2 linked regions of the Homo sapiens genome follow. The protein of the gene in region 1 interacts with the protein of each later gene in a pairwise test. Each region holds a gene or a part of one and is shown on either strand. Other genes may lie near its edges. The genes, in order: ZNF596 and PSMA6.

The links.
Region 2: the proteins of ZNF596 (region 1) and PSMA6 interact in binary tests that used the Homo sapiens proteins (3 or more experiments, as listed by UniProt).

What each region holds. Positions count from the first base shown.
Region 1 is NC_000008.11:234,558-243,224, reverse strand, and holds part of ZNF596 (zinc finger protein 596), read right to left. Parts: exon of another isoform or gene 2,729-8,667; intron 2,402-2,728; 5' UTR 2,330-2,401; coding exon 2,318-2,329; intron 339-2,317; coding exon 212-338; intron 1-211. UniProt on the Homo sapiens protein: May be involved in transcriptional regulation.
Region 2 is NC_000014.9:35,309,181-35,317,847, forward strand, and holds the end of PSMA6 (proteasome subunit alpha type-6), read left to right. Parts: intron 1-1,559; coding exon 1,560-1,715; intron 1,716-3,700; coding exon 3,701-3,879; intron 3,880-5,180; coding exon 5,181-5,275; intron 5,276-8,068; coding exon 8,069-8,126; 3' UTR 8,127-8,313; downstream 8,314-8,667. UniProt on the Homo sapiens protein: Component of the 20S core proteasome complex involved in the proteolytic degradation of most intracellular proteins. This complex plays numerous essential roles within the cell by associating with different regulatory particles.

The sequences.
Region 1 (8,667 bases):
ACTTTCTAGAGAGAGGACAAATCAATATAAGTGAAAAGGAAAGAAATGGCTGTCAGGTAATTGTGAGAGTTATGAAAGGATCAAAGCAGAAGTTGAAGTGATAGATGAGAAAGCTGTTCTAAGCACGTGTAGAATGAAAGAATGAATCAGTGAAAAATGAGTGAGTGAATGAATCCGTATATACATACATAATAAATATAAAGAGACTCACCAATAGAGACCAGATGACTGATGTTCTCCAACATCACATCTTGAAACAGCTTTCTCTGGGATGTGTCCAGCAGGGCCCACTCTTCTTGAGTGAAGTCTACAATGATATCCTCGAAGGTCATGGAATCCTAAAACATTATGGACATTCTACTGCAAACAGGGCTATCTCTGCCAATGTTCAGTGGAGCAAGATCAAAGTGACTGTACTAAGGAAGTGTGGGTGGTATGAACAGAAAACTCAAAACAGTGTTTGGGGTTCCTGTCACATTGCTTTAAATCTGAACTGGGAATCTGGCTTTCAGATTTACTCATACATAAAACTTCACATAGAGAAATATCACATGTGGTGTGGCATAATATAACCTGAAGATTTCCCAATAGACTTCTAAAGTATAACTTACAGATACTAATTATGAAATCTGTACTTGGAAATTTAGAACTAAAATTCTCCTCTCCACCACCTTCAAGAAAATCTATAGACTCACTACAAGGGAGGCAGCATCCATAATTTGTCACGTTTTAATCAAGACTATAGTTAGATATTCCACTATAGGACCTCAGTGTCCTCAGAATAAAATAAAGACCTGTTATGAGTTCAAAAAGGTCCAATGAGATAGTATGTAAAGTGGTTCCTATCTATCACTTTTTAGATACAAGCCACAAATACATTATTCATGAAATGACTGAGAACACTCAGTTGTGTGAACAACTTTCATATAGAACTTGGTATCAGCAGATGCAGCCTCTTATGTCTACACAACTCAGGTGTTCACTGTTAATGGATAAGGATGAATGGCTCAGCAGCACAAGCCAGGGACTCTAAGACTTCAGTACTGAAAGATGGTCTCATCCTGCCACTTTCCATGGTCTGAGGATTTCCTTTCTCAATTTTATGTGGGATCTTCAAACACCAGGTGATATAGTTTGGCTCTGTGTCCCCACCCAAATCTCATCTTGAATTGTAATCCCCACATGTTGGGGGAGGGGTCCGGTGGGAGGTGATTGAATCATGGGGGTGAACTTCCCCCTTGCTGTTCTCATGCTAGTAATATCTCAGAAGATCTGATGATTTAACAGTGTGTGGCATTTCCTGATTTGGTCTCTCTCCTGCTGCCTTATGAAGAAGGTGCTTGCTTCCCCTTCCACCATGATTGTAAGTTTCTGGAGGCCTCCCAGTCATGCTTCCTGTTAAGCCTGCAGAACTGTCAGTCAGTTAAACTTCTTTTCTTCATAAATTACCCACTATCAGGTAGTTTTTTATAGCGGTGTGAAAATGGACTAATGCACTAGGTACTATTCTATTTTGTTTCTTCATGTTGTCTCTAGATTTAGGGGAAAAAAAATCCTTTGATTGTCCTGGTCTCTCCACTTCAAAAATTTCCTCAGAGTTTTAAATTTACTCTGTTTCCTATACTCCATCACTTAATGCACAACCAAAATTAAAGAAACAACACTCCAGTTGCTTCCAGTTATCAAATTTGATCAGAGGTTAATTTGGGGACAAGGGTAATAAGAATTTTAATTTTGCTTTTTAAGTTTTTCAAAAGTTCACATTTATTCTCTCAAGACATTAAGATTTTGAGATAGGAAAAATAAATGAATAATTCCTCATTGTCTCCTCTGTCCTAACCCTATCTGCTTTCCCTTCAAGTTAAACAGCCCTCCCCTAACACCTGAAACACTAGACTAACTGAGCTTGCCTTTGTATGGGCTATAACCTGCTCTCACTTATTTTCACCACCTACCCACATATACTCTCAAGCCCACTCCTGCCAATAACATAGGTAATGAGTGAATTTATTTCCCCAACAAGGCCATGAGAGGCTCGTAATGAATGATTTCCCTGAGACTGGATGAGAGAAACAAAAACCTCTCACATCTTAATACACAGCCTTAGTAGAGGCTGGAATGCCTTAGTGTACTGTTGAAAGGACATTACTTCTTGATGACTCTTTGAGCCAATGTAAACATTCCGAAGCCCTGGGGAATCTTAATTGGAGCTTGGATCCTTGAGTGCACTTAGAACATCCATGTTAATAGGATGAATCTGCCCTTAGGCTGGTAACAGGGGTACAAATTTCAGTAGAAAGAAGAATTTCCCACTCACCGGTGATGGCATTGTACTAGCTCAGCCACCAAATGTATTCCTCTGGGTTTTCACTCACACCATCCAAGCACTAAGAAGACAAATCTGAGCAAAAACAAAAACAAAAACAAAAAAACCATGACACTCCAGTTTTGCTTCTAACATCTGCCCCAAAGCTATTAGCCCCAGTCCAACCAACAAGGACATGCAGTGGGTAGGGGGTGGGTTGGGTTGGTGGCTCTCCTCTCCCAGGGTCAGAAGAAATGACTATTGCTGCTAATAAAGATATAAATATTTTTATTTTAGACCTAGAAATGTGAAAATCATGGAGTTTCATATGCCACCTAGCGCATGGAATTCTGAAATGTTTAATTCCTTCTATGATTCCAAATCCTAAGAATCCCTGAATCATGGAGATGTGGCTCCACCTACAGATAAATCCTGGAATTTCTCAGATTTAATTATTCTCGGTTTGTGTGCTTGCAGGCTTTCTCCACATGCATCTCAGCCCTCAGGAGCCTCCCTCCATTCCTTCTCCCTTCTGCTGGTCCTCTGGATACACTTGTACTGAATGATTCTGTCTCTTCCATGTGAGGCTTCTAGAAATACCAGTCCCTCAAGTCTGACCTGTAGATAAATGTAGCATGAATTTATCTACCAAGCAGCTTCAAATTTCATTTTATCATGGTGGATTCCTTAAAAGACACACTTTACAAGTGACATACCTTACAAGAAATGCTAAAGGGAGTTCCTCAAGTTGAAATGAAAGGACACTAAGAACATGAAAACTTGAACATGTATGTGACATTGTTAGTTGTAAGAAATAGATAGTTTGGTTTTCATCCCCAGTTCCTGGCACAGAGCCACCCAAAACCCTTGTAATTTCCTAAGCAACAGAGTTGCTAGGAGAAGCTTTTGTTCTTTTTGGTCTTTGACCCTGGTTCCCAGTACAGAGCTCGTAATGCCTTGGAACTTCATAGGTGATAAGAGTGTCTTCTGTTCTAATGAGACAATTATTACTAGGCTCTAGGATGGGGGGTGATCACCTGAAAGACCATGACTTGATCAGAAGCTTGGAACGTACAGTCCCACCCCCTATCCTTTGGGAAAGGGACAGAGGCTGGAGATCGAGTTAATAACAATTATGCCTACTTGATGAACACCACATAAAAATCCCTGAATGATGGGATTCCTAGAGCTTCTGGGTGGGTGAAGAACACATCCATATGCTGAAACAATGGTACCCCCCAACTGCTTGGAGACAGACCTCCTAAACCTAAGATGCTTCCAAAACTTGCTGTATGTAACTCTTTAGCTGGCTGTTCATATGTAATATTTAAAATGTCCTTTGTAATAAATCAGCTAAGTAAACTGTTTTCCTGGGTTCTGTGAGCTGCTAAACCCTAGTGAATCTAACATAAAAAGGAGTTCTTGCCGGGCATGGTGGCTCACGCCTGTAATCCCAGCACTTTGGGAGGCCAAGGCAGGAGGATCACCTGAGGTCAGAAGTTCAAAACCAGCCTGGCCAACTTGGTGAAACCCCAAAACCCCGTTTCTACTAAAAATACAAAAATTAGCTGGGCATGGTGGCAGGCACCTGTAATCTCAGCTATTCGGGAGGCTGAGGTATGAGAATCGCTTGAACCTGGGAGGTGGAGGTTGCAGTGAGCGGAGATCGAACCACTGCACTCCAGCCTGGGTGACAGAGTAAGACTCTGCATTGGCAGTGGGGGCGGGGAGGAGTTCTTAGGACCCTCCAATTTTTAGCAAAGACAGACAGTTTCTTCACTTTTAAAAAATTCTTTTTCTACTTGCTCTTCTGATTGAATAATTTCAAATAACCTGTCTTTGAGTTCACTGGTTCTTTCTTCTGCTTGATCAAGTCAGCTCTTGAAGCCTTGTATTGATCCAGTTCAGTTACTGTATTCTTCAGCCCCAGAATCTATATTTGATTCTTTTATTATGGTTTTTCTTTGTTGATATTCTCATGTTGTTCATGTATCCTTTTCCAGATTTTACTTGTTATCAGTGTTGTCTCATAGCTCATTGACCTCCTTTAAGGCAATTACCTGTAATTCTTATCAGGAAAATCAGAAACCTCCATTTCTTTTTCTTTTTTTTAAAGCGGAGTTTCACTCGCGTTGCCCAGGCTGTAGTGCAACGGCACGATACCAGCTCACTGCAACCTCCACCTCCTGGATTCAAGTGATTCTCCTGCCTCAGCCTCCTGAGTAGCTGGGATTATAGGTGCCCGTCACCACGACCAGCTAATTTTTTTTTTTTTTTTTTTTTTTTTTTTTGTATTTCACCATGTTGGCAAAGCTGATTTTGAACTCCTGGCCTCAAATGATCTGCCTACCTCGGCCTCTCAAAGTGCTGTGATTACAAGTGTGAGCCACCGCACCCAGCCAGAAACCTGTATTTCTTTATGGTCAATTATTGGAGATTTATTTTGTTCATTCAGTAGGGTCACATCTTGATTTTTCAAGGTTGTGCAATATCTCCCAGTCTCACAGAGCTGTGCCAGTTGCTATACGATGCCCTGTATTTTTCCTTAGAGCTGTGCTCTGATAGCCTGGGACACGAAATGCATATTTCATTACTCTCCTTTCCTCCACTAGTCTCACGTATTCTCCTTGGGGAGAAGTCTAAGGGGTCTGTGCTTTCTACCAGTCTCACAGAACCATGGGGGCCACCATAAACCTCCACACAAGCCTCCTAAAAATTCTCTACCTTGGCTCAAGAGTATGGGAGTCACGCTGCAGACAATGGAGGTATAAGAAAGACATCCAAGGCCCCTGTGAGCTTCTCAATCTCCACAGGCATCACTAAAGGTGGGTGCTAGACTGAAAGGCATGTCCATCCTCATGGGCAATCTCAGGATTCTCTAAGTCCTCCAAGGAGGCCAGCAATGGCTTATGTGGGCCTGGGTCACCCCTGCCAGCAGGGACTAGTACTAAGGATGAGATCCACCAATGGCCACAGCTGAGTTATGCCAAATGAGATGTCCAGACCTCATGGTGCCTAGGAAGACAGATGGCAGAAGCTCAGCCAGGCCATGGAGATTAAAACAGTGCTAGGGGCTTAATGTATGTTTTTAATGGGTCTGCTACATGTCAAGTTTGGATCTGGAGTCCAGCCTATAATCCTAGCAAAAATTAAACACCAAATATGATATTCAATAAAGTGTATGTGGCTAAAAACATACGTTGGAAATACACATAACTAGAAACATCCAAATTCAAAGAGAAACTGCTAATTCCACAAACATGATAGAGTAATTTAATAATGAGATCACACATACATAAATAGTAAATATGAACTGTATATTTATCTGAGTTCTAAAGACTTTTTTTTCCGTCTCAGTACACTAGTGGGTATACGTCACCAGTAAAATCAAAGGGGTATTCCAATTACATTCATGATATTAATAAGTATGATAAATGTAAGTAGCCAGAACCATGGAATTGGGGCTACAGCTGTGATCTTCAAGAAACGTAAAACTTTAAAAACACTCATAAACCAAGAAAAAGATAAAACAGGAGTTACTTGACTTTCCAAATTGTTACAAATTCAGTACATATTAATAAGACTTAAAAAGATAAAACAATTTAATAAATAATAAAATAATGTAATGAATGAACAGATTTGACAGAAATCAATAATTAAAAAGTTTTGAGAGCAAAATCATGAAACTGAAAAGACCCACGGTGGAAAGAAAAAACACAGGTTAATAAAAGAGACTGTATTTATTTAAAAGTAGTAATTTAAAATCTAAGAAATGGGAATAATTATATTCCAACATGAATATGTATATTACTTTCCACAAAAAGAGTAAAAACTTTCCCTCATTAATCAGCACAAAAATCTGATTAGCCAATTTTAATGTTTAAGTTATATATCAGAGTTTAACTGTAAAAGTGATTTGTGAGAGTTCTTACATGTGAAATCACTTCTAGTTCCTTTGTAACCTAAGTTATTTTGAAGGAGAAAAATAAGCCTGTCCTCATTAGTTTATTATGCTAATCAAAATGAACATGAATGTAACAATAACTACAAATTTAACCAACAATTTTCCTTACTTACATTTGCAAAAATCATCAATACAATTTTAGCCATTTGGCTATTTATTTTGGCCACCTGGCCATCACTGGTATGGTTAAATAATGACAGAGCATGGTAAAGTGGAGTTTATTGCAATAATAAAAGGATAATTCCATACTAGAAAACCTATCATTTTCACAAAGTAATTTTAAAGATTAAAAAAATCACATTAATAGACCTTTGAAAAAACATTTTCATATAATTTAAATCTTTAAAAATAATATAAAATCTTTAAAAATCATACCAAATTGTGGGGACTAATTCTTCTTAATCAATAAAATCTCAACAATATATTCAGCAGTTAACAAAAGAACCATTTCCACTAAAGGTAAGGCTGGAAAAAGGAGGCTGGGTGAGGCTGATGCCATTCACCACTGCACATGATGCCTGAGGTGGGACCAAAACAAGAGGGAAAAGGAGAGGGACTACAAAAATGGAGTCAAAGAGCTGCAACTGTAGTTATTCTCAGATGACGTGACTGTAAACTTGAAAAAGTGGAATCAATTCTAATTATCAATACTAATAAGAATATTTAAAAAGTGGGCAAAACTATTATGAATATTCTGAAATCAATATTTCCTGTTTAGCAACATTAGTCCTTAAAAAAAGCAAACACACAAAATCAGTGTCTATTTACAACAGGCAAATATTATGACTACGATTTGAAATAAATTTGTAGACCCATGTAAATAAATTTTAAAACTTAATGAGGATATAAAAATGACATGAATAAAGCCTGAAAATCCTATTATTAGAATGGAGGACATAGTGACATAAAACCTCAGTGACTGTAGACTCAGGGCAACCTAGACTTAAAAGTCCCATGTGGTCTTTTACATGTAAAAAATGAGAATTAGTCTAAAAGTCAATTTTGTCTAAATTTTGATTTTTGGTGAGTATACAGTCAAAATAGTTGTGAAAAGAAAAAAATAAAGTTGTCAAATTTCATGTAACCTATGTTATTTGGAAATTTAAAATAAGTCATATAAATATTTATAACAATATTAAACAATTTCATAAGTGGACTGAATAAAACATAATATTTTATCATATACAATAGCTCCTGCCTTCCTGAGGAAAACATAAAATCAAAGGGCGTGAAGGAAGGATTTTGGTTTCACTGCAGAAACATAATAAGACACCGAAGTGTGTGTTTGTGTGTGCGTACATATAATTAAACTACAGAATATAAAATAGCATCTAATATACATCAAAAATGAGTTTCATAGAAAAATTCATTTTACACATATGTCTATAAAATAATAAAATTTATTCAGCCTCACAATTACTTTGTGAACTGGAAATAACAATGAGTTGTCATTTTATCCAAATCTAAAAAAAAAAAACATACATACAGTATCAAGTTCTGGTTAAAGTAGTAGATGAACTTTATGTGGTACATAAGAGTATCTATACAGTTTGTGGGCTGCATCTTGCTAGAATATATTACATTATAAAATGCACCATTTATTTACTCTGCGATCAAACCCCCAACTTGCCCCAAGTGGAGGAACCCTCAGACATTTGCAGAGCAGTCAGTGTGCTAGTAAGCAGCATTCTTTACAAATCTATGAACATCAAGGTCTCCTTGGAACAGATGTTCTGTGAACAATTTATAAAACTCCCTCCTGTTAGACACTTAGGTTGATTCCATTTTTAAATCAATTACTGAATAAAACACACTCCATCGTGTGGATGAAATGCTACCTTAATTTGTCAAAGCTATCATTTTCTAAACTTTTCTTTTTAATTCAAATCATTAATATTTTGTGGCCAGATCAATACTGATTCATTGTTTTAAGCTTCAAATGCATTATACAGTTGGGCAGAACACATTTCCTCTCATCAATCTTCTTTTCCAGGATTTGTCAGATATTCCTGACATTAATTCACTACTAATATGCACAGTTTCTCTAATCATGGTCAACAAAGATCTGACAGTGCATTGTCCCTAAACGACCCATACTTGCCTCACTGACACCATGTGGCCCACTTCCCATCTATAATCTATGTCTGGGTGTGAAGCCCTTCCCATATGATCCCCCGAATGGAACTTCACAAGTTCGAATTCACTGGGTCACAGTGTGATAGCGTGAAGATGGGAGGACGTTAAGGGAAGGCTATGGGTGAGTTGGGAAATGTGTTAGGCAGGGTCAGAGATTACCACATCCTAAAAACAACACTTAAGGCGGGAGATGACAAAACAATCAATGAATAACATGACTTTTTCCAGTGAAAGTGCCATATCTAATCCTTTTCCATTTTTG
Region 2 (8,667 bases), on another chromosome or scaffold:
ATACCTATAATAGAATTAGATGCTTATGCTGCTGTCGGAGAAACTGGGCTGAGGGCCCTTTCATAGATGATTTTATCTTATTTCAGCTATAGTTAGTAGTTTAAGGGGACCTAACTCAGTATATCTCAAACCTGGTAATAATGGCATCGGTTAGAAGTGAGTGAGAATTATTATGAAAATTATTTTAGGTTGGGCACAGTGGCTCACAGTTGTAATCCCAGCACTTTGGGAGGCCAAGGTGAGAGGATTGTTTAAGACCAAGAGTTCAAAACCAGCCTGGGCAACATGGTGAGACTCCATCTCTATAACAAATTTAGAAATTAGCTAGGGGCTGGTCACGGTGGCTCACACCTGTAATCCCAGCACTTTGGGAGGCCGAGGCAGGCGGATCACTTGAGGTCAGGAATTCGAGATCAGCCTGGCCAGCGTGGTGAAACTCCATCTCTACCAAAAATACAAAAATTAGCTGGGCATGGTGGCGCACGCACACCTGTAATCCCAGCTATTCAGGAGGGTGAGGCAGGAGAATTGCTTGAACTCGGGAGGCAGAGGTTGCAGTGAGCTGAGATTGTACTACTGCACTCCAGCCTCGGCAACAGAGTGAGACTGTCTCAAAAAATAAAAACAAAAATACCAAAAAACTTAACCAGCTATGGTGGCAGGTGCCTGTAATCCCAACTACTCAGGAGGCTGAGGCAGGAGAATCGCTTGAACCCGGGAGGTAGAGGTTGCAGTGAGCCAAGATCATGAGACTGTACTGCAGCCTGGGCAACGGAGCAAGACTCCATTTGAAGAAGAAAAAAAAATTAGCTGGTATGGTGGCACATACCTGTAGTCCTAGCTACTCAGGAGGCTGAGGTAGGAGGATCACTTGAGCCAAGGAATTCAAGGCTGCAGTGAGCTATGATGGCTCACTGGGTGCCAGTCCAAGACCCCATCTCTAAAAAAAAAATGAAAAACTAATTTAAGCCTAAAAACAAAGATTAAGAAAGATTATTCTCTCTCAAGGCCTTTTTTTTTTTTTTTGGAGACAGAGTCTCACTTTGTCGCCCAGGCTGCTCCGCCTCCTGGGTTCAAGCAATTCTCGTGCCTCAACCTCCCAGGTAGCTGGGACTACAGGCATGCACCACCACGTGCAGCTAATTTTATGTTTTTAGTAGAGACAGGATTTAGCCATGTTGGCCAGGCTGGTCTCAAACTCCTGGCCTCAAGTGATCCGCCTCTCTTGGCCTCCCAAAGTGTTGAGCCACCATGCCCTGCCTCCTTAATGCTTTTTCTTTTGGGAGTTACTGGATACTTGCAGAAACTATTTTGACTGCTGATGAAAGGCTCAGTATAAAAGGGGAGTACTGTGTAGAGAGCTTCATGTTTTTAAATTTTTTTCATATACTTGTTGATGAGTTATTTAGTATTCATTGGGGGAGAAAAAGCCGTAGCGGACCCTTTCTCTTTAACTCATGTATGTCTATATGGTGGGAAAATTGCCTGGCTAAATTGCCTGGCTTTCAGGTTTGTTCTTTCCTTCTAACCAGGTAAATCTTTGTTTTTTATGCTATAAGCTGACAGCAGATCCCAGGTACAGAGGGCACGCTATGAGGCAGCTAACTGGAAATACAAGTATGGCTATGAGATTCCTGTGGACATGCTGTGTAAAAGAATTGCCGATATTTCTCAGGTCTACACACAGAATGCTGAAATGAGGCCTCTTGGTTGTTGTAAGTATGCTAAGAGGTCTCCCAAATAATTGATGAATTGAAACTTTTTACAGAACATGTATACAGAATTATTTAAATAACACTTGAGTTCTGAACATGTGGTTTGGAAAATACATAGAGTGGGAAAATCTTTATAATAAATCAGAACTAAAGGATAGGTTTCACAACAGTATGTCGGGCATTATCTTTAAGCTTTAGATGCTGTTAGACTTTTTATCAAAGTATTTCCATTTGGTGTATGTGATTTGAAAGATGCAAGTCCTCATTATTAGGATGTTGTAATGAGGTTCTACTGCAATTCGAGATTACTAATTCCATAGAAATACCTGCATCAGGCATCTTAATAATGTAGCTGTTTGTTTTGACCACCCTAAAGAATTAGGGTCACACACAGGTGTGTAATTCACATTTTTAGAATAAATTTCTATTTTTGAAAACAAGTAAAATTGTATTGGGAGAGGGATGAGATTTACTGATTTTTAGATGTGATGTAATAAATTAGCCTGAAAAATTCAGTGCATGTTTGTTTCTGACATTGTGTCATTCATTTATGAGCATTAAAGCAGTCAGTGTAATGATTTCTGTTTAGCATCTGACCCTCTTGACTTCTCACTTAAAAATTACTTAAATCATATTCATCTTGCAAGACCTTGAAGGAAAGAAGTATTTGTTGTTTCCCCAAGCAGTAAGTGGGTACTTTTTTGTGTTGCCCTTATATTTTGTATATATCAAATATAAGAAAGCAGTCAAACCATTAAGTACTTTGTTACCTGTTCTACTGAGTAGAAAGAAATTTAATGATGGTGTTTATTTTAATTGTATTCCTATAATATGGTAACATTAGAATTGTAGTAACAAAGTTACATGTATAGAATTTAGAGCTTGGTTTGTGTGACTTACTAGAGGAGTATATACCAACAGTAATGAAGATGGGCAGTGTAAAGGTGAGCAGGTAGCCTGTAAGTGTATTTCAGTTTGTGCCAGCATTCCCAAAGTGTGTCCCATACACTGTTCCCTGGAACCTTAATAGGTATTTCTATTTTAAAAAAAAAGTATTTCTTGGTCAAACAAACAGAAGAACTACTGAGTTAAAGTTAAATAGGTCAATCTACAACAGAATATTTCACAGCATTTAATATGCTATTATTTATTATCTGTTTCCAGAAAAGGTATATGAAAGTGTTTTTGGGCCAGGCACAGTGGTGCACACTTATAATCCCAGCACTTTGGGAGGCCGAGGCAGGAGGATCACTTGAACCCAGGAGTTCAAGACCACCCTGGGCAACAGCGAGTCCTCGTCTCCTAAAAAAAAAAAAAAAAAAAAAGGTTGGCCAGATGCAGTGGCTCACGCCTGTAATCCCAGCACTTTGGGAGGACGAGGCAGGTGGATCACAAGGTCAGGAGATCAAGACCAGTCCTGGCTAACACGGCGAAACCCGGTCTCTACTAAAAACACAAAAAATTAGCTGGGCGTGGTGGTGGGCACCTGTAGTCCCAGCTACTCGGGAGGCTGAGGCAGGAGAATGGCGTGAACCCGGGAGGAGGAGCTTGCAGTGAGCCGAGATCGTGCCACTGCACTCCAGCCTGGGAGACAGAGCGAGAGTCTGTCTCAAAAAAAAAAAAAAAAAAAAAAAAAAGTGTTTTTGAAGTTTATTTGACCAGGCAACATCTTGAAGGATTAGGGTTCAAATAAACATGCTTGGATAACAGCAAGGATTGGAAACACTATTTTTAAATTGTATTTGTAATTATTCAAACTATTTTTTTTAATCTGTGATAAATCCTTTTGTGAAATGGGAATTTACCTGTTACCTAATTTACCTGTGGTGATAACCTGTATTTTATCAGTTTTCTTAAAGGAAAATACATATCCTAAAATTGATGGCCAAAGTCATGATTAGCAGCAGCTATGTGACACCACCAAGAAAGAGGAGATGTCATTGTATAAAGCTAAAACATTTAATTAGGGTCTTTTCTCTTTTTAGGTATGATTTTAATTGGTATAGATGAAGAGCAAGGCCCTCAGGTATATAAGTGTGATCCTGCAGGTTACTACTGTGGGTTTAAAGCCACTGCAGCGGGAGTTAAACAAACTGAGTCAACCAGCTTCCTTGAAAAAAAAGTGAAGAAGAAATTTGATTGGACATTTGAACAGACAGTGGAAGTAAGTCAACCAAAAGGAGCTGACTTTTTTTATGCTATATAGAACAGTGAGGATCTTTGTATAATTTCTATACAAAGCTATTCCTGAATTACATCCCAGGATTCAAGTTGTCAACTTAATAATGAAATTGATATCATACAGCTGACATAGGAAAATTTGAGTTGCTTTTATTCACTTAATTCCTTATTTCGTAATGTATTTGAGGTGGCTTTCAACAAAACGCATATAATAGGAAAATATAAATAAAAATAGGAACCAGCTGGGCATGGTGGCACACACCTGTAGTCCCAGCTACTTGAGAGGCTGAAGCTGGAGGACTGCTTGAGTCTAGGTGTTCGAGGCCAGTCCTATTTACTGCCAAGAAATTAAAAACAAAAATTTTAGTAGATTTTGGGTGTAAGTCTGGAATTAAAGCCATTCTGAAGATGCTAACAACATGCTTCTGATAAGTGACCAAAAAAAAATTACCATCTAATGCTTTTACGTTTGGTTTGGAAGTATGCTTAAAGGAGATAAAAAGCTAGTTCATGTTCAGGAAGTACTGGGCCCTGTCTAAATATTTCTTAAAGGTTTCTTTTATTGCAATTCATAATTAATTACATAAATAACCACATCCGGTAAAAAAACACTTAAGGTGGCTCACACCTGTAATCCCAGCACTTTGGGAGGCAGACAGATCACCTGAGGTCAGGAGTTTGAGACCATCCTGGCCAACATGGCGAAACCCTGTCTCTATGAAAAATACAAAAATTAGCCGGGCATGGTGGCAGGCGCCTGTAATTCCAGCTACTCAGGAGACTGAGTCAGGAGACTCGCTTGAATCCACGAGCCTGAGGTTGCAGTGAGCCAGGCTGGCGCCACTGCACTCCAGACTGAGCGACAGAGTGAGACTCTGCCTCAAAAAACAGAAACAAAACAAACAAACAACACTTAAAACATTCTTAAATCGTTTTTACTGTAAATTCCTTGAAGATGCAGAGAGTATCATTCATCTTTATCCTTTTCCCATTTCACCCCAAGTGCTAAGTGAAGTGTAGTGCCTGGGTCATGAAGCCAATAAACCTTTTTGTATAAATCATCCTATTTTAATTAATGGACCCCTTTATTATTTGACTTGGTAGAAAAAAATTTCTCATCATTGGGAGGCAATACATTAGAGTTAAGCAGTCTGTTAGTAACATTGAACTACCTCATTGAAACATGGAGCTCCTGATTGACTCATGATTTGAATAAGCTAGGAATGAGAAAACCTTGGAATCTCTAAAAAATACTATATTTTAACATTAAATACTTTTTTTCAGACTGCAATTACATGCCTGTCTACTGTTCTATCAATTGATTTCAAACCTTCAGAAATAGAAGTTGGAGTAGTGACAGTTGAAAATCCTAAATTCAGGTGAGTGATATTGTGGGCCACATGCAGACTAGAAAGGTGGAGGCGTGTGAGTCCATGTGTCCTATAACTTGTGGGGGAAATCTTTTTTCTTTAACTGTCATTATAGTTTTTGTTTGTGTGTTTGTTTTTTTCCCCAGCACCTGAGATCTGTTTTTAAAACTTTGGACTCTATTTAAGAGTCAGATATGAAAGCTTTTCTCCTTATTTCAGAGTGATTTTATATCTAACACCAGAGATGACATAAAGTTACCTTCCTTATGTAAGGAAAAAAATTAGCATAAGTGTTTTCTTTTTTTTAGTTTAAGGCCAATACAAATTCAATTCCCAAAGTAGTAGTTTGCAAGTTTTTCAGATAGAACTTTGGTTATTTAGTGGTTATTTAAGTAGAACTTTGAGGAGCAATATGAGTTACTGATATATGTCAGACCCTTATCTAGAGATCTTTGGAAAGCCCAAATTTTGAATACAGCTAATTGACTTGCAGTTGCTGGATGTGTGTGTGTGTGTGTGTGTGTGTGTGTGTGTGTGTTCTTACTCACTAAGTGACTAACTCCCACACATCAGCCTTATAGCTTCCATGATTCAAATCCATACTGAGTGCTTCGTATAATCAGCTCATTTAATCCTCCCAGCAGCCCTGTGAGGCAGTTGATATACCATGGACCAGGATGCTCTTATCTTTAATGAAAATACTGCAGTTAAATCGACAGATACAAGGAACTACTGGGAGGCATTTTAACTATTATGTGTATCTATTCTTAGATCACAACCATAAAGACACATGGTCTTGGTTGTGGTGTGGGGTACGGGAGTGGTAAACTAAGCTTAACTAGACCTTGAAGAGGTTTTTCGTTTGTTCTTTTTTTTCCTAATTTGTTCTTTTGGTTGCCCACAGATAAGTCATATAAACATGACAGATTCAGAAAAATTCATAGGACTTTAAAAAAAAAAAAACAGCTGGGTGCTGTGGCATGCATCTGTAGTCTCAGCTCCTCAGGAGGCTGAGGCAAGAGGATGGCTTGAGCCTTGGAGTTGAAAGCTGTAGTGCGCAATGATAGTGCCTGTGAATAGCCACTGCACTCTAGCCTGGGTAACATAGTGAGACCTCATCTGTTAAAAAAACAACCGACAACACCAAAAGCGAATCTATCCTAGCTTTTCTTCCCGTAGGAAGAAGTCTTGTAACTTGGGTTGGGGTAGGGGTGAGGGGTGGGGGCAGGGATCAAGTTGCTTTTGAAAAAGGTGCCTTTTTTTTTTTTAAGTAAAAATTTCAGCAAGAATAATCTTAAAATCTCTCTAAGGAACCTACAATTAGTTCTTGTTTTCTTTTCTGTTTGGAGACCTTCCTGCCACCTTTAAAATTGTATTTGTTATTTTTTAAATTGGTAAGGAATCAAAAATCTTGTCTTCAAAAAACTTTGTATCATTTATAAATTCTGTGATAGTAAATATATGTAAATAATTACAGTACATAGCATAAGCATCAACAACTATTTAAACTGCTTGATATTGCCTTCAGTTGCACTAAAAAATGTCCTTTTGACAAATTTCACTTTTTAGAAGTCTAGTAGTAATAGGTCACATTAACAAGGTTGCCAAACAATTGCTTCCTTTCGAGGCAAACATCATTTAGAAAATACATGTTCAGGGCCACACATGGTGGCTCACACCTGTAATCCCAGCACTTTGGGAGGCCAAAGTGGACAGATCACTTGAGGTCAGGAGTTTGAGACCAGCCTGGCCAACATGGTGAAACCCCATCTCTACTAAAAATACAAAAATTAGCCAGATGTGGTGGTGGACGCCTGTAATCCCAGCTGCTTGGGAGGCTGAGGCAGGAGAATTGCTTGAGCCTGGGAGGCGGAGGTTGCAGTGAGCCAAGATTGTGCCACTGCACTCCAGCCTGGGCGACAGGGTCAGACTCCATCTCAAAAAAAAAAAAAAAAAAGAGAAAGGAAATATATGTTCAACATGGAGCACTCTCTGGCTGGTAGACTATTCATAGAATTATAACTTTATTTTCATGAACTTCTGAATCTGAACACTTTAATATGCTTAAAATTTCTTCATGAATTTTTATCTTTGAGCTGACATAAATTTCAGTTATACTACATATAAATGTATTTTGACGGCTGGGCAAGGTGGCTCACGCCTGTAATCCCAGCACTTTGGGAGGCTGAGGCAGGCGGGTCACGAGGTCAGGAGTTCCAGACCAGCCTGTCCAATATGGTGAAACCCCATCTCTACTAAAAATAGAAAAATTAGCTGGGCATAGTGGCACATGCCTGTAGTCCCAGCTACTCAGGAGGCTGAGGCAGAAGAATCGTTTGAACCTGGGAGGCAGAGCTTGCAGTGAGCCGAGATCACGCCACTGCACTCCAGCCTGGGTGACAGAGCAAGACTCTGTCTCAAAAAAAATAAAAAATAAATGCATTTTGACATAGAAGCTAAATAGAATACTTTATAGTTTAGCTTTATTTATGTTATTCAATTGAAATATTTTCTATCTTAGCTGCAACTAAAGAATTTTATTTTCAAGATACAATTCTAAATCTGATGTCAAAGTAAACATTTTTGTGTATAGGTGAAGGTGGTATAATATCTGGGAATTCCTTCAAAATAATCTGAGGGAAGATAAGTGTGTGTATAGATTTTTTAAAGATTGGTTTATAAATTGATAATTGTTAAAGTAGGTTGATAGGTATATGGGAGTTTATTATACTATCCCACTTTTACGTGTGTTTGAAAAAATTTTTTTTAAATCGTTGTTTTTTTCCCCCTTTTGCCTTCTAGGATTCTTACAGAAGCAGAGATTGATGCTCACCTTGTTGCTCTAGCAGAGAGAGACTAAACATTGTCGTTAGTTTACCAGATCCGTGATGCCACTTACCTGTGTGTTTGGTAACAACAAACCAACATCATGGAGGTCCCTGGATTGAAAAAGGAGCCTCTCCCACTCCTCCTACCACCGAAGTGGTTAGGACTCTATATAAATAAAAACAAGGCTTTTGGAAAATAATTGCATCCTGTTGTTTTCACCTCCTATTTTAAAATTTATTTTTGACACCTAATGTACATATTTATGGGGTGCAATGTGATGTTTCGATACATGTATACATTATAATGATCAAATTAGGGTGATTAGCATATCCATCACCTGAAACACGGTGTTTTTGTGGTGAGAACATTTAAAATCCTCTCCTCTAGCTATTTTGAGGTACACAATACCTTATTAGTTTTTTGTTTTTTAAAACAAGATCTTGCTCTATTGCCCAAGCTAGAGTGCAGTGCCATGATTATGGCTCACTGCAGCCTTGAACTCCCTTGTTAAGTAATCCTCTCACCTCAGCCTCCTTAGTAGCTGGTACTACAGGTGTACACCATTGTACCCA